Regions from separate parts of the Homo sapiens genome. Here regions 1, 2, 3 and 4 are each linked to region 5. Evidence: fine-mapped expression QTL. A gene starts in region 5. Each other region holds a variant in brackets. All regions are shown on one strand. Distances are between the middles of the regions. Region 1 overlaps LRP12 (LDL receptor related protein 12). Region 2 has its middle 74 kb from the start of LRP12. Region 3 overlaps LRP12 (LDL receptor related protein 12). Region 4 has its middle 32 kb from the start of LRP12. Region 5 holds the start of LRP12 (LDL receptor related protein 12).

The links. PIP is the estimated chance that this variant, and not a neighbour inherited with it, causes the effect. A credible set is the group of variants that fine-mapping cannot tell apart.
Region 1: its variant is the best candidate, but not a certain one, in a credible set for the expression of LRP12 in blood mononuclear cells (TOPMed, PIP 0.90).
Region 2: its variant is the best candidate, but not a certain one, in a credible set for the expression of LRP12 in esophagus mucosa (GTEx, PIP 0.52).
Region 3: its variant is the best candidate, but not a certain one, in a credible set for the expression of LRP12 in monocytes (TOPMed, PIP 0.64).
Region 4: its variant is the best candidate, but not a certain one, in a credible set for the expression of LRP12 in whole blood (TOPMed, PIP 0.72).

Annotation. Positions count from the first base shown.
Region 1 is chr8:104,502,066-104,507,173 of GRCh38, reverse strand. The region is part of intron 3 of LRP12 (LDL receptor related protein 12); the gene reads left to right. Among named protein-coding and RNA genes, the nearest start is that of MIR548A3, 20 kb to the right of the region's middle. The variant G/C (reference allele first, on the strand shown) is at 2,122.
Region 2 is chr8:104,661,049-104,666,156 of GRCh38, reverse strand. No RefSeq gene overlaps it. Among named protein-coding and RNA genes, the nearest start is that of LRP12, 74 kb to the right of the region's middle. RefSeq lists enhancers at 481-530, 157-1,356. The variant A/G (reference allele first, on the strand shown) is at 2,923.
Region 3 is chr8:104,516,730-104,521,837 of GRCh38, reverse strand. All of the region lies in intron 2 of LRP12 (LDL receptor related protein 12), which reads left to right. Among named protein-coding and RNA genes, the nearest start is that of MIR548A3, 35 kb to the right of the region's middle. The variant A/G (reference allele first, on the strand shown) is at 2,957.
Region 4 is chr8:104,618,933-104,624,040 of GRCh38, reverse strand. No RefSeq gene overlaps it. Among named protein-coding and RNA genes, the nearest start is that of LRP12, 32 kb to the right of the region's middle. The variant T/C (reference allele first, on the strand shown) is at 2,743.
Region 5 is chr8:104,586,298-104,591,405 of GRCh38, reverse strand. It overlaps LRP12 (LDL receptor related protein 12), which reads left to right and starts at 2,148. Exons shown (of 7, transcript NM_013437.5): 1 at 2,148-2,587. The coding sequence starts at 2,509. RefSeq lists silencers at 2,110-2,449, 2,880-2,989.

The DNA of each region.
Region 1 (5,108 bases), 84 kb after region 5:
GACAAGTTTTACATATGATTATCATTGCATAATCTTAAATGATTCAAAAGAATCATATGCATAATTAAATGTAGCTCTTTTAGACATACAAATGAGTCAGTATTAGGAAATATTAAATTAACTTACCATGTAAACAAGTCAAAAGAAAAAGTATATGATTATCTAGTGTACACAGATGCTTTGAAGCATCTTGGTAAAAAAGAAAATCAGCATTCATTCCTGAATTTAAAATAAAAATTTTAAATTCTTAGTAAAATGGAATTAGAAACATGATTTTTTAAAATCTGGATAGAAGAGGGAAACTAAAGTTACGGAGTAAAAACAATACTGAGAACTGTCTGTATAAAACTTGCTTAAGATGGTGAAATAAAGGCATTTTTACTTCATTCCTCTCCCTTGGAACCCACTATAATCAACAAAGGCCACCTTATCCATGGGGAAGAGAGGATTGAATACCAGCACCCTGCTTGAAGCCAAGGACTAGGGACGGGCAATTTTGCTCCAGACAGGAGGCTGAAAAATCTTCCACCAACCACAGCCTGAATTTATATGGGGCTGAGAGCTTAGAGAGCTGAGAGGGCATAACCTAACAAACATGAATAACTATGTCACCTGCTGACTCCATGAAAGGATCTGTAATACTCTGAACCATCATTTAAGACTTGTTCTGGAATGTAGACCCAAGTAGGGGAACATAGAAGAAGAGAGGATTAAAAAAAAGAGAGAAAACCAAAAAACTTCCATAAAATAAACCTGTAAACCAAAATTCCAGAATGTGTGAAAAAATTGAATGCTGAGAAAAACAGCCAAACAAAATTAAGTTGGAACTCAAATTTACTCCAGGCATTTTAAGATGTATTCTGTCAGGAATTATTTCTTAACTTTCTTTATGCCACGGCCACCTAGTATTCTGGTAAAACCTATGTATTCTTTCCCAGAATAATGTGTTTAAATTCATTAAAAAAAATACATAGCATTACAAAGGGAACCAATTATGTTAAAGTACAGCTATCAGATATTTTTTAATATTTGTAATGTAATATATGCTTATTTATGAACACATTAGCAAAATCAAGTGGTTAATTTCAAAGAAAAAATTTTACGTGTAAATAGTATTTTTAGATATCTGTAAAAACTGAAATGTAACATAAAAATATCTCTAATTTTGAATAGTGGTGGAGTGGCCAGTGCTATAAATACTGTCATGGTTTGTTGTTTATAAGTGTAGGAAATGCTAAATTTTAGTAAAAGGTTAGTGAAAATAAAGCTTTAAATTGTTTCTACCCTATTTGTGATTTTTGAGGGGACAGGAGAAACACCGAATATTCTTACTTGGACTTTGTTAGAAAAAAAGTGTGTTTCAGCATTTCAGTTAAAATATCAAAAGGTAGCCACTGATTAAAAATAGGAGTAATATTGAGCAGTTAACAGAGGAAAAGGAACTTTAAAAATATATTCAAAAAAGACAGGAAGCTAGATGTGGTGGCTCACGCCTGTAATCCCAGCACTTTGGGAGGCTGAGGCAGGCAGATCACTTGAGGTCAGGAGTTTGAGACCAGCCTGGCCAACATAGCGAAACCTCATCTCTACTAAAAATACAAAAATTAGCTGGGCATGGTGGCACGCGCCTATAATCCTAGCTACTCAGGAGGCTGAGGCATGATAACTGCTTGAACCCAGGAGGTGGAGGTTACAGAGCCAAGATCATGCCACTGTGCTCCAGCCTAGGCAACAGAGTGAAACCCTGTCTCAAAAAAAAAAAAAAAAAAAAAAAGGAAAGAAGGAAAATGAGAACTCTCTCCCAAGTAGAAAGGTTGTAACACATCTAAAACAAAACTAATACAGAATGTCTAAAAACAAGGAGATGGGCCAGATGCTGTGGCTCGTGCCTGTAATCCTAGCATTTTGGAAGGCCAAGGTAGGCTCAGGAATTCGACACCAGCCTGGGCAAGGTGGTGAAACCCTGTCTTTACAAAAAATACAAAAAACTAGCTGGGCATGATGGCACGTTGCCTGTGGTCCCAGCTACTCAGGAGGCTGAGGTGGGAGGATTACCGGAGCCCAGGAGGTTGAGGCTGCAGTGAGCCATGAATGCACCACTGCACTCCAGCTTGGGTGGAA[G/C]AATGAGACTTAGTCTTAAAAATAAACAAAAACAAAACGAGATAGAAAAGGTTAGTTTTGGAGCTACTCATCAAGAGAAAGCTAGTGTAGGAAGATTAACATCCATTGTAATTGAGCTTAAGGCACAAAATACTAGTAACAATTGGGGTATTCTACCAGGAAAATAAACCAGCAGTAAATTTCATTTACTTAATTACATAGCCTAAAATACATGCAAAGCAAAATGTGGAGAATTGCCCGGCAAATTTGACCAATCCACAGTTGCAGTGGGAGATTTTTAACACACCTTTAATACTTATTTCAACAAAGAATACACATTCTTTTCAAAGACATGTGGAACATTTATAAAAATTGATTATGTTTCACATCACAAAGGAACTCTTAATACATTTCAAAGACTGTACATCATTCAGATTGTGTTTTCTTACCACAATGCAATTAAAATAAAAGAAAAAAATAAACCTGTATGTTTAGAAATATATTCCTAAATAACTCCTGAATTAAAGAGGAAATCACAATGGGACCAAATATTTTTTAAATAACCATAGTGAAAGTAATACATATTAAAACTGTTAGAATACATTGAAAGAATACTTAGAAAAGTTTACAACTTTAATGCATTGATTTAAAAATTAGAAAATAAATAAGCTCAGCATTTAACTCAAGAGTTAAGGAAAAGAATTAGAGGGTAAATTTTAAAGTAGCAGTAAAGACCAGGAAAATACGCAATAAAATTCAATAAAACAAAAAGCTGACTTTCTGAAAAACTCAGGAAAATAGATAAAACTCAAAGCAAAACTGAAGAAAAAGAGAAGATAAAAAGAGCAAAAGTGTCTGTAGTTATAAACAAAATTTTTAATGTCATAAGAGAATATTATAAGCAGTTTTATGTTAATACTTTTATACAAGTAGATGAATTGGATTATTTTTTAGAAAATTTATATTACTAAAATTGATTCAAGAAGAATTAGAAAACGGATGAAATCAGTAGCCATTGAAGAAATTGAATCAGCATTCAAATTAAGACTCTAGAACTAGTTTTATAGGCAAGTTTTACTAAATGAATAGAAAAGGAATTTCCTTAACCTGGTAAAGGGTGTCTGTTTAAAAATTTTCAAAAGCAAATTTAATGTCAAAGTTAATTATAGCACCAAGGACCAAGACAAAAATGTGTGCTTTTACTGGTTATAGTAGAATTCTTAGTGAATGCAACAGTGCAACAGATAGAAATCAGTGATATAAAGAAAATAGGAAGGAAGAGAAAACCTTTATTTGCTAATTATATGTTTGTTTTAAGCAGTCTAAAGCAAACTTAAAGATCACAGATAGGAAAAAATGTCTTTAAATTGTATGAAAGTACTGTGTACAGAGCTTTGTAGTAATAAATTTTACTATCAACATAAGATCAATTTCTAAGAAAATTTAAATGGTCAAAAGTTTAAGAAACACTGATTAAACCAAAAAACATCAAGAAATTGAAACTCTCTCCCTGACTCAATATATTCTAAATAGGCACAGAGCACAAATATGTCAACAGTGCTTTTATTACACAAAGTACTATGAAGCATTTAAAAAACCAAAAAGTAATTTTACTTATTTAAAAATCCTAAATGAATTAGCAAACTAAAATAGGGTATACATGAACAGATATTTATTGTTTCTTATTCTAAACAAGGTTTCTGCCTTCATGAATCTTTTTTTTTTTTTTTTTTTTTTTTTTTTTTGAGAGACACAGTCTCGCTTTGTCACCCAGGCTGGAGTGCAGTGGCGCCATCTTGGCTCACTGCAACCTTTGCCTCCCGGGTTCAAGCAGTTCTCCCGCCTCAGCCTCCCGAGTAGCTGGGATTACAGGTGTGTAAAAACTAAAACTCTGAAATGCTTAAAAAATAGTTGAACATCTTTGGGATCTTTGGAAACACCAAGATAGCTTAGAGAGGACACTAAATGCACTAAACATAAAGCAAAAATAAAAAATTAGACTTCATCAAGACTAAAATTAAAAACCACGCCCAACTAATTTTTGTATTTTTAGTAGAGATAGGGTTTCACCTTGTTGGCCAGGTTGGTCTCGAACTTCTGACCTCAGGTGATCCACCCACCTCAGCCTCCCAAAGTTCTGGGATTACGGCGTGAGCCACCTCTCCCAGCCTTTGCCTTCATGAATCTTAAATGTTTAGTGGACTAAAAGTTTATTAAGGGATTCCCTAGTTTGAATGGGACTAGACCTCCCATAAACAAGAGCTATTAAGTTTGGATAAGATATTTTAAAACCAAACTAGGGATTCCCTAGTTTGAATGGGACTAGACCTCCCATAAACAAGAGCTATTAAGTTTGGAAAAGATATTTGAAGGCTCTGGAGAGTAATAAAAAACTGGCAAAAACTGGAGAGTATTCCACCCCTGAAAGAAGGAACCACACTTCGTGAGATAGGCTTGTTTCCTACCAGTTCTCTGAAGATTCTTGCCAGTCTGTGCAACGTGGAGTGACTGGAACTCAAGCAGATCACCGTGGTCTTGTCAGCTTGAGGTGTCAGGATGCAGTTGAGGATGGGACAGTAACTGGAAATTAATAAGGTAACTCCTGGAAAGGAGAGAACCACAAGCTGGAAAGTAACTGCATTTAAATTATTCTCGAATCCTTAGCTGACCCATGAATTGTGTGTGCTTAAAGAAGACTCCAAGGAACCTGCTGGAAAGTAACAGCAGGAAGGCTGAAGATTTCAGCTGCTGCACCCCACAGCAGAGGCAGCATGTGGAGTTTGAATCCTGTCCATCACAGGGGAGACCGAGTATAGGGCTTCATAAATAAATGCCTTGAGATTTTTAATGAAACTCTGTGTGTCATACTTTACAAGTAAAGACAGTGTCCTTAAACTAAGAATTCCCCCTAAGACTAAGGGCAAAGCAGAAACAAACTCACTTTAAACAAGTGTAAAACCAAACCTCCTCAAGTTCATAGTCATCAGACTAATTTAACTGTGTGATAG
Region 2 (5,108 bases), 75 kb before region 5:
AAGGCCAATAAGAGCAGGTGCCAGGAGCCTTTCACCATCAGGATGCTCCTCTGCTGAGAGAAATTGCCAAGTGCAGCTGAGGCATCCCTGACAGATGATTTGATGGTTAACAGGAACCATCATTATAGCATCAGAGTATCTGGATGGAAGAATTTCAATGCCCAGAGGTCTTTAGCTTTTTCCCTCTTTATAGACCTTGTCATCTTTGAAATCAAGAGAATTGTTGAGTTTTTCTTTTTAACATAGTTGTCACCAAAAAGGAAGAATAATAATTTTCTGGCTAGAAATCCAATAGAGCTAAAGGCTCAGAAAACCACATAGACACTGAGTTGTCAGCCCGCGATTTCCTGTGGCCCAGAAAAGAGGGTAAATGGGCTGCAATTTGTAGTAAGAGTCTCACAGCAAATGCAATGGTAAGCACAGTCTGCCGACTAAACTAGCAGAAGAAGTGGTGGGTGGGTGAAGATTACAGCAGGATATGACGGCAAAAGATTTTAAGGAGAGCCAAATATTTTAGAGCCTGAAGCAGAAAGATAAAGAGTGTAGTGTTTCTAAAATCAGACATCTAGGGTTACCAACCATCCTGGTTTGCCTGGGACTGTCCTAGTTTTAGTATGGAAAGTCCTGCTTCCCAGGAAACCCCTCCGTCCTAAGCAAACTGGGAAAATTGGTCACCCTGAGTCCAGTTAGTTTGCAACTTACAGATAGTGTGACTGCTACTCACAATCCCACTAACAGCATGACTCACTTAGTATCAGTGTGACTCAGCATCTCTCAGTAACTTACTTAGCACCTTTGAGATTTAGTTTCTTCATCTGTAAAATGAGGATACTAGTGCTTATTCACAACCAATAAAAGGAGATCAGAAGTACTTTTTGGTATCGTAGTTCTATTCCTGTACAGATGCAGAGGCTTGCCTCACAGTCAACTCTAAGCACAATAGCACCTAAGACAAGAATACAGAGAGAAAACTGAGTAATCTACCTTTAGACAGTATGGAGTCAGAAGGATTGTAGTACTAGGGTTCTAGCACTGATGGCAGCCTTTTTGCACCCTGGTAAGTTTTTGGGTTTTTTTGTTTTATCTTTTTGTAGAGGTGGGGTCTCACCATGTTGCTCAGGCTGATCTCGAATTCCTGTGCTCAAGCAATCCTCCTGCCTCAGCCTCCTGAGTAGCTAGAACTACAGGTGTGCACCATGGCACCTGGCTCGCCTTGGAGTGACTTAGGCAATGCAAAAATAGCCTGGCAGCCCAGAGCTTTCAGGAACAAAGTAATAGTAGGAGTTTGCAAAAAGAGTATGTTTATTATAATTTTGCACATATGCCCTGAAATGTCTGTGACAAATATGCAAGCTATCCAGCTTGTTTTGTCTTATAAACAGAACAAAAATTGTGGATAAGTTTATTAAATGTAGCCTGTCAAGTGTAAACAAATTGACATTATTCTGAGAGCAATATTATAGACAATTTACATTTTATTGCCTTTACATTGTCTCTCTCCTGTTGGAGGTAGTTTTTTGCCCTGCTTGGACTCATAGAGCTGGCTATTTTTATTTGAATAGCTGCACTTTCAGATTCATATGTTCCAATCAAGTTAATGGCCCTTGTTTTTGCTGCTGATATAGGTCATGACTAAGCTACTTCATGCTTGAATTTTTACTTCTTACCACAAGTGTTTCTAGACAATGACCATAAAAAATGACTTTTAAAAAAATCCAGCTTTTTAAGGTGATATCATTTGGTCAGGGTCTAATACTACCCCTTCAAGAAGAATGTTCTCGCAAGGTCGCTGTGCCCCAACTTTTAAAAAGCATGCTTTGGGGGGACTTTTTAAGTATAATGTCAAAAGAAGCTGTGGCATACGTTCATGAATGATAAACAGAGGTAAAATGAAAGCCAAAAAGAAACACTCTGGTCAGGGATGAGGTGTGGGAGGATTCAATGAAGAAGAAAAGTAAACCTTATCAACTACTATGAAGACCAAGAGATTTACCAGAGCAATGATGCACAAGTCTTAAGAAATGAATTGTGATCTTTAAACTATACTTGAGGAAAGAAATGAAATGAATAGACATAAAATTTTAACATGACTGGGAGAACATGAAATTTAGGAAAACAAAACTTCACAACCAAAAAATTCCCAACCATAATACTTAAAGGAAAGAAAATAATGTTTTGTTCCCCCTTCTATGTGCTCCAAGCACTGAACTGGCTGCTCTCCTTGCATAAATTTTGTGAGATAGGTATTGGAATCCATATTCAATCTAAAAAGAATAAGAAACTTATTGAAGGTTACATAGCATTAAGTAACTGCTGGGCTTTGAACTCAAGTCTGTCTGTTTCCAGAGTACATATATAGTTCAAATCAATTAATATAGCCAATTTTCAAAAATTGATTTGCATAAGACTTCTATTTTTAAGGACTTAAAAATTATGATTTCATTTGACTTATTTGTTAACTTCTAAACCAAGTGTCTGCCAATGTCTCTTAGGCCCATCCTCGAACTGTGAGCATTCATTCATAGCTGATAAACATAATTTTCTTAAAGGTTTTAGGCCACAGCAGAATGGGACATCAGATCTTTGCCAATTAGGCAGTAAGTATCAATTTTGAGAAGAGTCAGCTAGGTTTGTACCCCTCCTCAACTAGCAGTGGGACCTAGGCAAGTCATTTACTCTCTCTAAGCTTCAGATTCCTCATCTAAAAATGGGGATAATAATAGTATATGTCTCTAATAATCGTATATGTGTTTAAAGATGAAATTAAGTGGTATTAAAGCAATTCTCATAGCACCTGGTGAAGAATAGGGTTTTATCTGAATCACTACGTACAGTCATTTGCAGGGATCCAGGAGTTTGGTCATTTTCAAAGCAATCTACACATATCCTATATTGAAACAGAAATCCCTAGGATTAGTTAGG[A/G]TCTATTTAATGTCCCAGGAGTTATGAGTATGTACTGAGGCTGCTTTGGCTTCAAACAACCCAGTCAATGCCTATAGAGACCTAGATAAAGATCGCTTTATACTGGGATTTGGGCACTTGTTTGGGCAGGCCATAAGAGATAATTATACCCACCTTAGTGCACTCAGCCAGAACAATCCAACGGCTGGCAAAGAAAGGAAGTACTGCCATTCATCTTCCATCTGTCTGTGACTGGGCCACACCAGTGCCTTGCCCTTGCCAATCCCTCAGTATTTAAGGATCAGAGTCATGCCATTTACCTTAGTATGCATCTTGAAGCATATGCAATAATTTATCCAGGCACTATTCTAAGGACTGGGGATGGAGAGGCAAGTAAGACAAACAAGGACCATTCTCCTAGGCAGCTCCCATTCCCAGTAGAGATACACACAATAAAAAATATGATTTTTCAACAGCAAAAGAAGTTATGAAAGAAATGAAATGGGACATTGGGATAGAGAGTGATTGGAGGGTCCAGAGTAATCTTAGAAGGCATCTCTGAGGGGTAACATCTGAGCTGGGACTTAAAATACTTTAGAAAGTAAGTGGTGACATAGGAAGTAAGGGAGGCAGTCATTAAAAGATCGTATTACATAAAAGCTAGTACACAAGACCCTGGAGTGTCTCAGAGATATTAAGACTGTAAAATAAATGCATTTTTTAACATATTCACAACGAAACCTCTTGCATCATAAGAGGAAGATTAACCATAAAGGTATGTCCACTTCTAAAGTATTTTGTCCAGACATAGCATCCTGCCTGTCTGCTTCTATTTCCTGCCATCTCTGTTCAAGACCAAGATACTATCCTTAAGTGAAAATGACTTTTACCTCTTTAAGCCTCTGTATCCTCATCCATCAAATGGAAATAACAATGCCTCAGAATTGTTTCATGACTTGTAGTGAGGACTAAAAGAGACCATAGACACAGAACCATCTACAGAGCATATGCTTCCAATCCACCTGAAAAAAAAATGGCAAATCTGTGTGACTTTGAATAGACATGAGAGAGATTCAGAGTGATGTTTTTTAATGTAGCTGTGTAGGATTTTTTTCATAAAAGTTTAAATATGTGAGATCTTTGCACTAACAAAAATATAAGAACCATAGAACCAAATAAGAAAAAGCAAAGCAGGCCAGGCACAGTGGCTCACTCCTGTAATCCCAGCACTTTGGGAGGCTGAGGAGGGCAGATCACTTGAGGCCAGGAGTTCAAGACCAGCCTGGCCAACATAGTGAAACTCTGTCTCTACTAAACATACAAAAAATTAGTTGAGCCTGGTAGTGTACGCCTGTAATCCCAGCTACTCGGGAGGCTGAGGCACAAGAGTCACTTGAACCCAGGAGGCAGAGGTTGCGGTGAGCTGAGATCGTGCCACTGCACTCCAGCCTGGGCGACAGAGCAAGAGTCTGCCTAGGAAAAAAAAAAAAAAGCAAAACAGATGAGTATTACAAGGTGAGGAAGGAATGGGAGAATAAAAAAGAGTGACATCCAGCCTCCAGAGGAATGAATGCAAGCCCCAGAGGATCTTGATGCTGCCTTGCCATCAGGAAAAGTACTGTGTTCCTGAGTCACAGAGTCCCATAGGCCTTGTTCCTGAAAGGCACATCAAGGAACCTTACTAGAAAAACTAACAGGCCTGAATTCATGTTTTCCCACACACAGCATTACTTTCCATCTCCTTTGGATTAAATCAATTTGGATGTTTTGTGAGCAAAAACATTATAGTAGAGAATTACAGTGGTTATTTTTTCATTCAGTCCACAAACATGCACTGATCCCTTTTCATGTACCATGTATCATGCAGGGCCCTATAGCTGGGAGAGTTGTGAGGTCCTCTTCACTCCTACTCTCATGTCAGGGCAGTGCTTCTGGGTGTGAATTCCCAATGGAATGAAATCAATTTACACAATGCTTGTGCACAAGTTCTTGAAATGGAATATTAAGCCATTGCTGTAAAGCTAATAGTGGATTAGCATATTCCCTTTGGAGTGTGGCAAAGGGAGTAGGAGGCATGGTTAATTACCAGAGGAGGTTTGAGAAAACTAGTCAGTTATCTAACAACTTAACATTCTCCAATGCTGTTTAACATTCAACAACTGTAAATGGAAATTGGCCCTAGCTACTACTTATTAAAACTAAGAGAG
Region 3 (5,108 bases), 70 kb after region 5:
TCACTAGTTCTTTTGACCAGTGTTATAAAAATGTCTTTCATCCATGTTTCAGATGAAGAAAAGAAAGAAGCCTTATTACATTTTAGTTGATTATTAATACATTAGGGTTTTTAGGATTTCAGAATATAAAAACAGAACATAGTTTGAACCCAAGAAGCTATCCTTTATATAAAGAAAATGAGTAGGGAATATGAGACAGAGTAAATTCTTGATATATATATATATAAAAACATTACTATAGGATGCTAATAATTTTTAAAGTCATTGTCTACCTTCAGAGTTTACTTCTGAGACACTTAAAGTTTTAAAGTAGCGAACTCCCTTTAAGTTTTGGAAATGAAACTAATGGTGGTATTATTATTTCTATATTATATACTCTATAATTGAATCATGGCCAATGTCTTATATGAAACATCTTTATATTATATAATTGTAACCTATTTTATATTATATATCACATATTTATTGAACAATTATGTATTTATAACAAAATAATTATGTTATATTTTTATGTTACATTACAGGTTGACTATCCCAAATCTGAAAATCCAAAAATCAAAATGCTCCAAAATCCAAAACATTTTGAGCAACGACATAACACTCAAAGGAAATGCTCATTGGAGCATTTCACACTTCAGATTTTTGGTTTTGGGATGCTCAACTAGTAAGTATATATCTGTACATATTCCAGAATTTGAAGAAAAAAAAATCAAAATACTTCTGGTCCCAAGGATTTTGAATAAGGAATACTCATTGTATGTTATAATAAACAATAACTCCAGCATTAGAACAGCACGTGTGAGTACCAGAACTATAGACAGAACAGGTTGTATTGTGACAGGGTATGCAGTGCTTAGATGGTAGAAGTGAAGTTCATCTGATGGATATATCCATTTCATTGAGTGAGCCAAACCTAGTGAACGTAAAAAGGCAAGCTCTGTTCAAGCATTTGACATTTTCTTTTCCAGTCTGTAACTTTGGGAATAACTCTTCAAAGTTGATAACATGTTGGTTATCTGTAATTTTTGCCAAGGCATGAATTTTAATTGGATGTACTGTGAAACTGTTGTGCAAAAGCCAGTCACTTGGTGGATAAGCAAACTGTACTTGGGTATCAGTTGACTAACAGCCTGATGTAAGTAAGGGGGTGATTTGATATTAAACTGCAGTAATAGAAATACAGTATCCAGAACCAAGCAAATGATAGTTCTTCTTTACTCTTCATGCAAACGTACTCTGGTATTGTTTATTTCTGGGTACCACCCTTGACAAAAGACACAGTAACTGGAACACTCATAGAAGATGTGAGTATACTAAAAACTATGTCAAAGCTGATAGAGATGACCTACAAAATCGTGAGCTCCAAGGCCAGTTTGTTAGCTTAAGTGAGGATTTCTGCCTTACCTTTTTATGCTTCCAGCCAGAGTCACAGTAACCTTCAAAAATTAGTAATTTTTCCCATTTGGGAAATAGTAGTAGCTTGCTTTAGCATTTTAGTCTTCTGTAGTGCTTAAAATAGGAAAATGTAGGTACCATGTTAGTAATTTTTATACCCTTGCAGGAAAAAAAAATTGCCCTCATAAGCCCTTTAAAAAAGGCATAAAAGGATGAATCTTCTCTATTCATCTTACGTTATGCATTGTTAGCAAAATCCTAAATTATTCTTACTAAGAAATTTCAGGGTGAAGCTGGCTAGTTAGTTCCATTTTAGGTGGGTATATTCAGTTTCTTTGCTCTCCTCATCTTCATTCATACTGTGCTATGACCCGTTTTTTTTTTATTTCTCCTTCTCTCTTTATATTTTTGCCTCTTCTGACTTTGTATTTTATTTTACTGCCATATAACCCTTGATTATAGTTTGATTGTTCTGAACATTAGTGACCTTCAAGATACCAAGAAATTACCTGCCTTGATTACAGCTGATAGCCAAGTAAAATATTTTGGTCCTTAAAGAATGTCACTTAGAATAATATGAATAAATATATTGCTGTATTCAGTCTTAAATATCGGTACTAATGCAGAAGAATATTTAAATTATAAACAGCTGGATATAAGATTTCCTACTTGCCATGGCACTTGCGGTTTCTAATAATAAGTCTCAGAGTAATGAGAGTCCTAAGTGGGAGTGATGGATTAATATCATTTTTTCTGCTTGCCTGATTCTTGTCTTTCAAGTCATAGTTAAAACCTTTCCCATCTTAGACTAGTAAATATTGCTACAAGTTGAGCATCCCTAATCTAAAAATCTGAAATTTGAAATGCTCCAGAATCTTTTAGAGCACTGACATGATGCTCACAGGAAATACTCATTGAAGCATTTCAGATTTTGGATTAGGGATGTTCAACCAGTATGTATGCGCAAATATTCCAAATTTTGAAATCCAAAACACTTTTGGTCCCAAGCATTTTGGATTAGGGATACTCAACCTATGTTCAAGTGCTAGTAATTATTCCCATACAGGGAGAAGTTCAGTTTTCTAACTTCTTTTTTAAAAAGAATGAAATTTGGAGTAATTCTAAGGAAATCTTACTCATGTTCAATCTCTGTCCCCTTCCAACTCTGTCCATCCTCAAAATGTTGACTTCTGACATTCACATTATAACGCAGCTTGGCTCAGGTGCCAAGGAGTCAGAAAACCCCATTTAAAGAGTCTGGAGGGTCAGAGAAATCAGGACACTATTTAGGCAACAAACACAGTCAAGATACAGGAAGAGGACTTTTGAATCAAAGTAATTTCTGCCTAGCTGTGGGCGTGTGTTTCCTGTTCAGGTTACAGGGCTTAGTTATGTTATACATGGCAGTCCAACAAAGGGCAACTATAGTACTCTAACTTATTTTTCTTGCAGATTCCAACAGTTGGTCACTTGCCTTGTATTCTCAGTGGCCCATAGACTCTATGCTGAACATGCATGCTTTCCAGACTGTCCATTATTAAGTGTCTTTAAGTATCTGTCC[A/G]TTGCTCTTTCCTTTGAAATGTCTCCCTCAGCCTCCACTTCATCCCCTTATTGCTACTATTCTACTCCTTGCCCTAAGCATCTTACCCATAATTAACTATATGTATATATGTTCTCTTATCATTAAAAGTAGGTTCTAGAATGCTGTTTATAAAATTTTTAATACCAAAGATACTAAGAAGCTGGTCAGTTCTGCCTGTAGTTCTTAGATAATGTGTAGCAAATAAGGAATCAATCTTTAGAAGCTTTAAAACTACTAACTATACTTATTTTCTCTGTGTTATTATAGATTATCTACCCTTTCTATCCATGTTAATGTAGGACCAATAGTTCATTTTTCTAGAATAGACCACTTTTGTCATTTAAATGCTATTGAAACGGCTCCCTTCCACCTCCCTGGTAATTTTTCCAGATGTTATAGGGAGTTCGTTAGTGGGCAGCAGTTTGCCTTAGTGGTTAAGAATACAGCTTTTATGAAGCCTCTTGTCTGGGTTCCATCCCAGCTCTGAGACTTACAGCTTTTTTGTGACCTTAGAAAAATTACCAAATTTCTCTGTGCCTCCATTTTTTTCTTATCTGTTAAATAGGGATAATAATAATAAGTATTAAGGTACCTGCCAGGTAATAAGAGTTCAATAAGTGTTAGGTAATTTTATAACATTATCATCAGCTGTGGATCCAAGGCCTGCATACATGCTTCACTTTAATGATACTTACAGTTCTTGGACTTGGAAACCATATATTTCTGACTTGAAGCAGAAATCTCATCCTCAGCACTATGTGTCATACTTAGCCTTTTAAGTTTTCAAACTGCTATTATTTTCCTAAATTAACAGTAGGCCAGGAGGTACCTGATTTTTATGCTAATCATCTAACTACATACTCTGCTTTTTCCATGTTTGGGTGCCTTTAGTTGTTTGCATAAGCATAATATTTTCCATGTATTGAATGATTCACTTGTTAACTTTCAGAATAATTTTTACTGTCATCCCATATGGCCATTCAATCCAGACACCATTTGCTTACCAAATTTTTATTTTGGAGATGGTGGGTTTCTTTAAGTACATTTATTTCCATTGGAATCAAATCCTTCTTACTAGTTTTCAACACTTGGAATTGCTTTTGTACTCATCAGCCATAATGGAATTAATATTCTTTATAATACACTCTATACAGTACTCTGAAAAATGAGATGGCCAAATGACACTAACCACCGTTACCTATATATGCTATTATCCTTTGCTTATGAACAGAGTGAGCATGATTTTGCTGTCGTGAAACTTTCATAAAGTAAAATTGTACAAAAAGATGAGTTTTTATAATTGCTTTTTAGGTGATCTCTTTGCCTCACTGGTTTCTCTTCCCTCAATAACCTTTACAAAATACTTGGATCACATCACTTCCTTTTGTAGTAGGTCTGTCTTGGCTTGACTGCTGTCTATAGAATTTGGGTCATTAAATTCTTTTAACTAGTTTAGAGTATGCTTTTCTGTGGCTCTACCAACTTCTCTTCTATGAAAGAAATCTTTTGTTCATAGTCAAGCATAACCTTCTCTGTTCTATACTTGTATAATATAGGTTTTTGGTCGGCCTTTGTTTCTGTTTAATTACACCATGTCTATAACTGAACATGTGATACTTTGCCTAAAGTTACTTGTTATGCATTAAATCATGTACTGTATTATCTGGTATGCTGTCATATTAACTGTTATATGCTTCTTGGATTCAGTTAAAAAGTATATGTCATTGTTATAAAACTATAATTTCCATGAGAACATGAGTTCTCTATTTCTTTTGTGCCCTTCATATGTGTCTTATAAAGTTAGGTGGTCAGTAAACATAAACAGACATTTACTTGCATTTCAGTTTTGTGATTTATTAAAATCAAAGTCAAAGATTTCACATAACTTTTAGTCTCAACTACTTTTTGTCATGAAGTATCAACTCTTGTCAGTTTTAAAAAACCCAGTTCTTCATCTGTGGAGCAGGAAATTATACTTTTTCTTTGACAGTAGTTCAGCTCTAATTGTAAATATGTACTTTTTCTGTAATTTTTTAGGTGTTTTGAAACTATGAAATCTCAAATTGTAAGACAGCTTGACTTTATTTTGAAGTGATCCTCCCTCTTTCATGTGTCTTCTTAATAGAGGCTG
Region 4 (5,108 bases), 33 kb before region 5:
CAACGGACATGAACAGACACTTCTCAAAAGAAGACATACAAGCAGCCAAATATAGAATGATTCTAGGTTTCTTACTATCCTTCTTTTTTTAAAAAATCACAGATTTATCTCCTTTATATGTTGTAAATAATTCTATAAAGCAATATAACATTGCCAATTTCTTCTTTCATACCCTCATCATTTCTTGCTTTTATCATAACCAATATTATTAGTCAGTTTATATAGTTCCTGGTTCAGTCAATATTTTTTGCATGTTTATATGAGAAAATGCTCATCATCACTAATCATCAGAGAAATGTAAATCAAAACCGCAATGAGATACCAGCTCATAACGGTCATGACCTTGGTTTAAAAAAGTCCAAAACATCTAAAAACAGCAGATGCCGGTGAGGCTGTAAAGGGAAATACTTATACAGTGCTTGTGAGAATTTAAATTAGTCCAACCACTGTTGAGAGCAGTTTGGAGATTTCCCAAAGAGCTAAGAGTTGAACTACCATTCAATCCAGCAATCCCATTACTGGATATATACCCAAAGGAAAATAAGTCATTCTACCAAAAGACACATGAGCCATTTGTTCATTACAGCCCTATTCACAGTAGCAGAGACATGGAATCAACCCAGGTGCCCATCAGTTCTGAAATGGATAAAGAAAATATGGTGCATATACACCAGGAATACTACACAGCCAGTCTTCTTTTGGTGAATAAAAGCTTTGCTAAAACTCCACCCCCACCAACACACACACACATTTCTAAGTGGTGTCTGTTTTAAAAGACCTTAAAATATATAATTAAGAGAATGATTATTCCCATAGTAAGCTGAATAGACACAGTCTTTTACAAGCCTCTTCTTCAAGTCTTTAAAACTGCTGAGCTATACTTGACTCGTGAGCCCTAAAACCACATGTGCACTTCAGCAAAAACTAGGTCAATAGTGAAATTTGACTAGTGTGAGAAACCATCACTTCCTCATATTATTAGACACTTTGCTGTATCTTTCAAAATACAACAGCACAACAATGCTTATTAGAATTCATTGATCTACTTGCCTCCTTTTTATCCCTTGCCATGCATGAACAAGGCTAATCCTTAGGGATCACCTATGTATTCATTTAAATGTTATTTATTCTACATCTGTGTGTATCTTCTATGAGCTAAGTGCTGGGAATACAAAAATTAATAAGACCCTGACCCTGCCATTAAGAAGCTCAGATATTGCAAGGGAAGTAGACAAATAAACAACTGCAATGGGACCCTGAGATAACGACTCGCTTCCTTCAAATGGGGTTAGCAAAGTTTTTATCTTAAGAGTAAGGCAGAGTAGAAACCACAGGAATCCCTCCCCCAACCCTGCTTTTCTTACTTTAAAATAGCAGCTGGTATCTCCTGTAATGACAACGCAATGACATGAAAATTGCAACAATATACTATGGCAGATGTCAACAGAGATGGTATTTAAACTGCACCCTAAAGAATAAGATGGAAAAAGGATGGAGGGCATTTCAGGAAAAGGTAACATGAGGGTGTGAGAAAACATAAAATGTTCTGGGAAAAAAAACTACTCCAGCATAGCAAAAGTGTAGAATTTCACTACACACAAATGTAGAAAAGATAAGATACAGAGCAGGGAATCAAGTCTTGAAAAATAAATTGGAGATAGAGTATAAAACTTAAATGCATTTGGTCTCTATGTTATTGCCAATGAGAGTCATATCAGACTCTAAAGAAACAGAGTAAGACAATTCATCAACCCAGTACTTTGTGGCTCTTGTTGCTACCACTTCACTAAAACTATACTTGTCAAGGTCAAACATAGTCTCCATGTTGCACATTAGTGTTTTTAAAACATTACGTTGGTGGCTATATAGAAAGCTGATTGAAGAGGGTTAAGACTTATGGTAGCAGTACGAGTTGGGAGATTGCTGCTGCCACAATTAAAGCAAGAAATGATGAGGGTATAAAATAAGAAATTGGCAATGTTTATATTGCTTTATTGAATTATTTACAACATAGAAAGGGAGAAATCTGTGATTTGTAATAAGTGGAGCACAGTGCGAAATCTAGGATCATTTTCTAGTTCCTAGTTTGGTCAATTGCATGAGAAAGATGAGCAATTTAAGGAATCATGTAATAATTTCCATGGTAGACTGTGTTGAATTTGAGTTGATTCTGGGTCATTCAGGCAGGGGATTCAAGGTAGAAGTATGTGTCTGATACTCACATGTAAGAGTAAGGGCTAGAGATACGGATTTCAATATCTTCTGAATTCGCCCATATTAATCTTACATTCTACTTCTGTTCTCATGGAAACTTATATTTTAATCTGTATGTTCAAAGGGAAGATCATTCTACTTGATTTGTTATCGACAGCCAATATTATTAGTCAATTTACTTAAGTCATTCATAAAACATAACTAGTACTGAATCTGAATTTAGTGAAAAAGTTGAGAGCTGGCTGTAGTCAGAGAAGAGATCTATGTGAAAACCACAAGGACATTATTAGCTCCTAGGAATATTCCTAAAATGGTAAAATCATGTGTTTACATATTTGTGAGTTAGCTCTCATTCATTTGAATTCTTATTTTAGAATTCATTTGTCTTTTCAAAATAATTTGAATTTGAATTCTAAAATAAGAAGTGTTATAGTGTTTATCAACCTACTCCAATATGGCTTACATATTCCATGGAAACTATTTTTGTCAAGTTCACCAACAATCTTTGTGTTGAAAATTCAGTGGGCA[T/C]TTTTCTTCCCTCATCTTAAGCAACTTCTCTCACCTTTCCACATAGAAAGGTACTTCTTTTTCTTGACATACTCTTCTGGCTTTGGCTTAGTTTCCTCCTGTCTCACTGACTATTTCTTTTCGGTCACTATCTCCTTCTCCTTCTCCAATACTCCTTCTCCAATACTTGACCTCTAAATGTCCCAGAGCTTCTCTTTTCTTTTTTTGTACACTTTTCCCCAAGCCATTCCTGTACCTTCAAATACTTTCTATTTTTTGTGACATCCAAATTTATATTTAAAAGATCCAGGAAACAGACATATATATCCAACTGCTTATTTGATATCTCCATTTGGATGTTTCATAGGTATCTCAGATTTAACAAATCCAGTACAGATCTTTTGCTTCTTCTCCATCCACACCTCCCAAAACTCTTCTTTTCCTGATGTTCCCAATCATGGTAAGGGGCAGTTTCACAAGCCAGAAACATACAAGTCAACCCTGATCCTTTCCTTACCCACATTCACAATCCTTCTGCCTTCAGTCCATCAGTCATTTCTACCTCCAAAATATACTTAGAATACTCTCCACTGTCTCTGTCTCCTCTGCCACTACCCTAGTTTGAGCCACCATCATGTCTCACCTGGACTAATCCATTCAATATCTGACTGATCTCTCTGCTTCTTATGTGTCCCTCTCCAATCTACTCTTCATCCAGCAGTCAAGTACTCTTTTAAAAGTATATGTAGATTTATGTCAGTTCCTATGTAAGAAAAAAAAATCATTTACTTCCCAGAGCATTTGGAATATAACCCAAACTCTGCAAGGCCCCACAAAACATTTTCTCTTAGCCTATTCAACCCATTGCTCCCTGGGATGCAGCCACACTGGCCTCTCTATAATTCCTAGACCCTGCCAGACCTGTTCCCTTTTCTAAGAAGACTCTTTCCTTATTCTTTGCATAGTTGCTTCTTCATCTTCTGCTTGGATAGTAAATGTTCCTTAGAGAAATATCCCCTGGCCACCTTATCTAAAGAAGCCTGACCCCTTACATGTACCTCATTCTCTACCACAGAATTATCTTTATTTTACAGCACTTTACAACACAAATTATAATCATTGTGTTTATATTTATATTTATATATATATATATATTTATTCTCCATCTCCTCCACTGGAATACAACCTCCAAAAGGACACAGCCATGTCTGGTGGTCCATTGCTACACTGTTATCTCTCTGCTTGAAATAATTCTTCCTTTGGTTAACAGAATGACTCTCTTCAGTCCCGTGCTACTAATATTGCCACTCCTTCTACAGCCAGATCCCCCTCCTCCCTGGTCCTTTAATGTTGGTAATTGCCAGGGATACTGTCTTTATTTATTTCCAATATTAACATTCTCCTATGTTTCCCAGGCCTGGCGCATGGTGGCACTGAATAAAATGCTGGGAGGAAGGAAGACAAGAACAAGATGCAGGTAGGAAGGGAGAGACGCAGGAAAGAAAGGAGAGACAGGCTGTAGGTAACCAGAAACTAAAGGTTTTATTTTCAGGGAAACTTCAGAGGATATTACATAAGGACAGTAGCTTCAGTTTTTGCAGTTCTTAAACACTGTGTCAGAAGAACTTCTGTAAGCAAACATTTGGAATTTGCCTTGTGACATCAACATTCACACAACCGAGAGAATTAAAGCTGGTAATTAAGGCTGGCAATCAGGGTTTTTCAGCTCTTACGGATTTAATAACTCTTAATTTGCAAATGCTTGTACCAGAAAGACTGCATCTTCAAAAAAATCAAAAACATGAAAACACAACTAATAAACAAGCACCCATGTTTGATTAAATATCAGAGGAAGAATGAAAACCTGAAGAAAACATTCAAATGATTTCATCTGTCCTAATAAAACATAAGGAAGAGAATGTTTGAAGGATGTTTTGGAGCGTGCTTGGCAGAACTGCGGTTATGCCAAATCTCACCTCCTTCCACCAAGTTTCAAAGGAAGAAGTATCTTTCTTGTTCTAAGCTAGCCTCTCCACCTGGGTTCCTGAATCCATTTCCTCCCATGTCCTCAAGTACTTTACTTTAAATGTTATTTCTTCTTTCTCCTGTTTTTCAACATCTTGCCCTCTCCATAGGCTCCTTCTCAAAAGCTTAAACAAGCTTAGCTTCCTATTTCAAAATACACACTCATTGGCTTTTAATTCTCCACTAGCTATCTCCATCTCTTCTCAGCAAGCTCATCCAAAGACTAGTCTTTCTTCCATTATTGCCTCTTCAGTGAACTGCCGTCAAGATTCTGCTCTTACTACTCTTGTGATACTGCTCTGGTAAAAGCCATCTTTGGCATCCTAATTTACCAGTCTCTTTTTATTCAAAATCTTGGCTTC
Region 5 (5,108 bases):
CTATGACCCACATAAATAAAAGTTCTTTGGTGTCCTCACCAAATTGTAAGTGTTATGGGGGGTCCAGATACCCAAAAGTTTGATAACCTGGCAAGTCTGAGAAGACACATCTGGGTGGATGAGCAAGTGTAGGGGTGGGAGGGGTGTGACAGGAACTGATGAGGGCACTGTGTGTCTCGTGTTCGGGACAGGATTCCTTGAATGGTACTAAAAGTGGACAGGGGAGGATGCAGTCCAGTCTACTCCTTCACTCTGCTTGTGGCCTGTTCTTAACACAGCTCTCATGGAAGCGCAATTTAGAGAAAGCAATCTTAAGAAACAAGAAAGTAGAGTTTAGAATCCCAAAATTAGGAAAGACAACTGCAATTTGTTTAGTGAAAAACACTGAAGTTGCTTCTTTCCAACAAGAATGGAAAACATTTTTGGAGTGCTGGTTGCTTTTTTTACCAGATGATATAAGATTTGTTAATTATTAGATTTTTGTAATACTTATTAATACATTTTTCTCTTATCTTTTGGAATAGCATTTCCTGGTTTTAAAAAAAAAAACTTAAAAGGGGGCAAATCGGCAGGAGACTGAGGAAAAGCCTAAATGTATTCCCCAGAAAGTATGTTTTAAATTTTAACATTTACTTACTGAGAGGTGAGGCCAGCTGAACTTCCTGGGTCCAGTGGGGACTTGAGGAACTTTCCTGTCTTACAAGAGGATTGTAAAATGCACCAATCAGCGCTCTGTAAAATGCACCAATCAGCACTCTGTAAAACGCACCAATCAGCAGGATTCCAAAAGTAGCCAATCGCAGGGAGGATTGAAAGAGGGGCACTCCGATAGGACAGAAATGGAACATGGGAGGGGACCACAAGGGAATAAAAGCTGGCCACCACCAGCCAGCACCTGGGGTTCTCTTCCATGCTGTGGAAGCTGTCCTTTTGCTCTTCGCAATAAACCTTGCTACCGCTCACTCTTTGAGTCCGTGCCATCTTTAAGAGCTGTTAACAGTCACCGGGAAGGTCTGCAGCTTCATTCTTGAAGTCAGGGAGACCACGAACCCCCTGGCAGGCACCAACTCCGACACATTACTAGGCGCTAAGCATTGTGCTAGAGAGTTTGCTGTGGTATAGGGGCAACAATCTTTACTTTGGAATGAGAAAAACTGTTTCAAACAACTTACTTGCCATGAGTAATTTAATTTCTCTCTTTTCTATAAAACATGGGTAATATTTATCTCACAAGGATGTTTGGGATTAAAAAGTGACAACCTATGTCAATAGGACAGCATGATGCAGTGTAGGTCTTCAATGAATAGCATGGAGAGTGCTTGCAAAGGGCAACGATAAAATCTAATATAAATAAGACGTTGTAGACAAACGCTTTAAAAACACAGGGGGTAAGGTCTGATGTGCCAGCGTCACTACAGACGTACTTAGAAAAGTGTTCTGGGGATCTAAGTAAAGGAGGACTCCCATTTGCTGGGAGTGAGAAAAGAGCTTTAGGGAAACTGCAGCGTGATGGGCGAATCCTCCTTTCAATATATCTACCCTGAAAGTCGGCTCCAGCCCTGCCGAACATCCTGGCCCAGCTGCACCCGACCCAGCGTGAGATGTCAAATGACCTCTTGGCGCTTCCACGCCAGACTGGAGGGGCTCTGCACAAGCCTTGCCCGACTCATTCCGGGCACCTTGAGCGTGGGAGTCCACACTGCCCCTTGACCGACCAGCTGCCAGGTTGGCCGCACTAACTTGAGCCCACCCCCACTCGAAGCTCCGCGCCGACAGCAAGTGGAGACTTGGGGGTACCGGATAGAGGAAGGAACTCCCAAGTTGTCAGCTTCAGACCATCCACGCCTCCCCCAACACGGAACCACCTTCAGCCTCCCAGCTGGTATCCCACCCCCCCTCCCCCCACCCGCTGGGCCAGAGCCCAGCCCTCGGACAGCGACCGTGCTCCTCCACACACCCCGCGCTCCAGCCCCTGGGCATCCAGCAGCCGGCGTTCGCACGCTCTGTCATCGATTGGCGCTGCCTTGCTCCTTGGGCTCCCGTCGCGTGGAAATCGGCCCGAAACTTGGAAAGTCCAGCGGAGCGCGGGGAGGGAACCGAGGCAGGCGGGCCAGGGGATTGCCGATCGCACGGATGGGCGCGCGCTCAGTCTGGCGAGTGGCGGCGCCGGCTAGCCCGAGCGGCGCGAGGCCGGAGTCCGGCGTCCGCCACCCTCTCGTCTCGCGCTGGCGCGCGAGCTCCTTGCCCTTGCCCCCAGGAGGGCCGCCCCGCGTGGGGCTCTCGCACCGCCCGGGGTGGGAGCAGGCGAGCCGGAGGGAGGAGGGAGGAGGGAGCGCGCGCGGGCGGCGGCGGCCCCTCCCTTCCCCCTCCCGCAGCCGCGGAGAGCGCAGGGAGCAGCCGGTGGCTCGGCGGCGGCGGCGGCGGCGGCGGCGGCGTCGGCGTCGTCTACCTCCAGCTTCTCCTCCCTCCTCCTCCGTCTCCTCCTCTCTCTCTCCATCTGCTGTGGTTATGGCCTGTCGCTGGAGCACAAAAGAGTCTCCGCGGTGGAGGTCTGCGTTGCTCTTGCTTTTCCTCGCTGGGGTGTACGGTAAGTGTCCGCGTCCCCGCGCCCCGCTGACCGAACAAAGCTGAGGCGACCCGGGCCCCGAGGCCTCCAGGACGGGGGTTCCCCTGGAGACTCCCGCGGAGACCCTGGCTACCGGCGGGACAAAGACCGGTGAGGGGGTGGATGTGGCGGAACGGGTGTCCCCACACGGAGATGCTTTTCTCCACTCGTCCACCTCCAGACCCTCGGGTGGTGGAGAGGGGCTGGGGGGCCCGGCCGGGAGGGCCCCGGCGGAGCGAGGGGGTGGCGGGCGGACTTCCCGACCTGGGTTCGAGGGCCCCCGCGGCCAGTTGCTCCAGGACCCGTAGCCTGGCACAATCCACACACAAAGATGCTTGACTGTGAGAAAGCAGAGGAGCTCGCCCCCGCCGCTGCCGGGACGGTCCTTCCCCCCGCCCCCTCAACCCGGGGTTAGGAAGTTCTCTCACCGGCGAGATTCCCACCGCGCCAGCCCTTGTCCTACTCGATTCCCTGAAAAGGCTTCCCGCTGACTTCTCCCCACTCCACCTCGGGGGCAAGGGCTCTGCCGAATCCGGGCGTGCAGGGTCCTGTTGGTTCCCCGGGAGCAGCACGCGGGAGAAGGCCAGAAAATAGTTTCCAGCCCCACCTCAGTCTCTCCTGTTAGGGTGTACACATCTGTCCTGACTCCTAGTTCAATTGTAATTTCATCCATCCTCGTCCGCCGCTGTGGTCACTGTTACTTTATTCCAGTCGATGGATCGGGTTAGAGATAACTCCTTTCGGGTTAAGAGAAGGCTGAAGACTGTGCGGACAGCTTTATATTGCGTTGGGGTCTGAGCAAGAGCTGAATGGAATTAATTGCAAAGAACATCTATCTCTTAAGATAATTAAGTTACACTTCTGACTTCACCGTTCTTAGTTCATCAGTTAAACACACTGAATAGGTATTTCAGAGAGCTCAGTTTTAACCTTTCCTTTTTGGAGTGTTGCTCTGATTTCTCCAGAAAAAGAATTAGAAGATATCATTACTTTGGTAAATTTTACTTATAAAAAGTCTAATTCATTTGCCACAAACATTGATTTGACTAGTATAATGGTGGTGGTGGTGAGGTTTAGTCAACAGCCAATTTGTCAGCAAGTGTTATCTCTTTTGAAGGCATTTATCTACGGAATTGAATGTGATGGTGGCTTTTGAAACCTGGCAAGTGACGCTAAATGAAGAATTAATGAACGTAATTGGGCATTTACTGACAGCCAAGAAATTCTTTTTGGTACAATTAAGGATGTGTTGCTCCCGTACCTGATTAGTAGTATTTTTGTTTGTTTTGGTGAGGAGAGTAGTTTGGTCCATTTTTTATGTAGGGGTAATTGCCAGAGGTGTGCTTGTGTGGGACCAAAAACCCAGTACACGACTTTTGATTGTTAGCTGCATCAAGTGGCTGTAATCCCTGCTTGCCTGATGACTTGTGGGTTTGGGTCTACACCAGAGATCAATAAGCTATTACGTTGTTTCTTCTGCCCTGAAGGTGGGTATAGTTCTGCTCTAGGTTTGGTGTAATGGCCCAGGAGAGAGAAGAAATTGAGAGGTATCTTTAATTTAGGGTGATTAGGATTGTCCAGCTTTGTCCTCTACTATAATAAGCATTGAATTTCTGTGATGTCCGATCAGAATAGATAAATAAATGGGCTCTTCTTTCATTAAAACCTGTGTCATCAGTGTTTGAACTAGAAGTCTTTTGCCTCGAGGGATAAGAGGCTGTGAACCCCTCAATTTGTTTTGGTGCATTCTTTAGTACTTGTACACAAAGTGACTTTCTGGTAGGTGCCTATCAAAGCTTTTATCTTTTTGGAATTTGTGTTCAGTGAGGAACACAAATTGTTAGTAAGCAAAGACTGAAACTCCTTTTTCCAACAGTGTGGGCCGCAGATTATAAAACCAGCAGGTGATTATGCCAAAGGTTGATGTCTCAAGCCACAGCAGGTTTCAAAGTGTAAAAAAAAAAAGGAGGTAGTGAACCAGGCAGAACATTAAACTATATCAGCAGAGATTAAAGGGAACCCTTCACCCTGGAACTGAGAAATCCTCTTTATGGCTGCATGTTTTTTGTCCTCTTCTGTCTCTAACCATATGTGGGTTTATAATAGTGAAAAAGGGCTGTAACAATAGTATGGGGTGGATGTGGTTCTATAACAATAGTGGGAATTGAGTAACTTAGAATATATAGTAGTTGTAATGGGTGGTGGATGCATCCTGAGAAATAGCTGTCGCCTTGAGCCTGTTAGAACAGATACTAGCTGTAATTTATGAAACTGTCCTCTATACAGTAAAAAGTGTGTGTGTGTTTTAAAAGGCTTCAAAAATAATTAGCTCTGTTAATGAAACTGAATATTCACAATCACTGTTAACAAAGAAAAGCAGGTTGATTGGCCAATATTTAGGGAACTCCAATATTAATTCTTCACAGAGTGACTCTTAAATGAAATGACTCTAAGGTGTGCTTCAGATTTTTGAAACATTTCACATACATAAAAAAATTTTTTG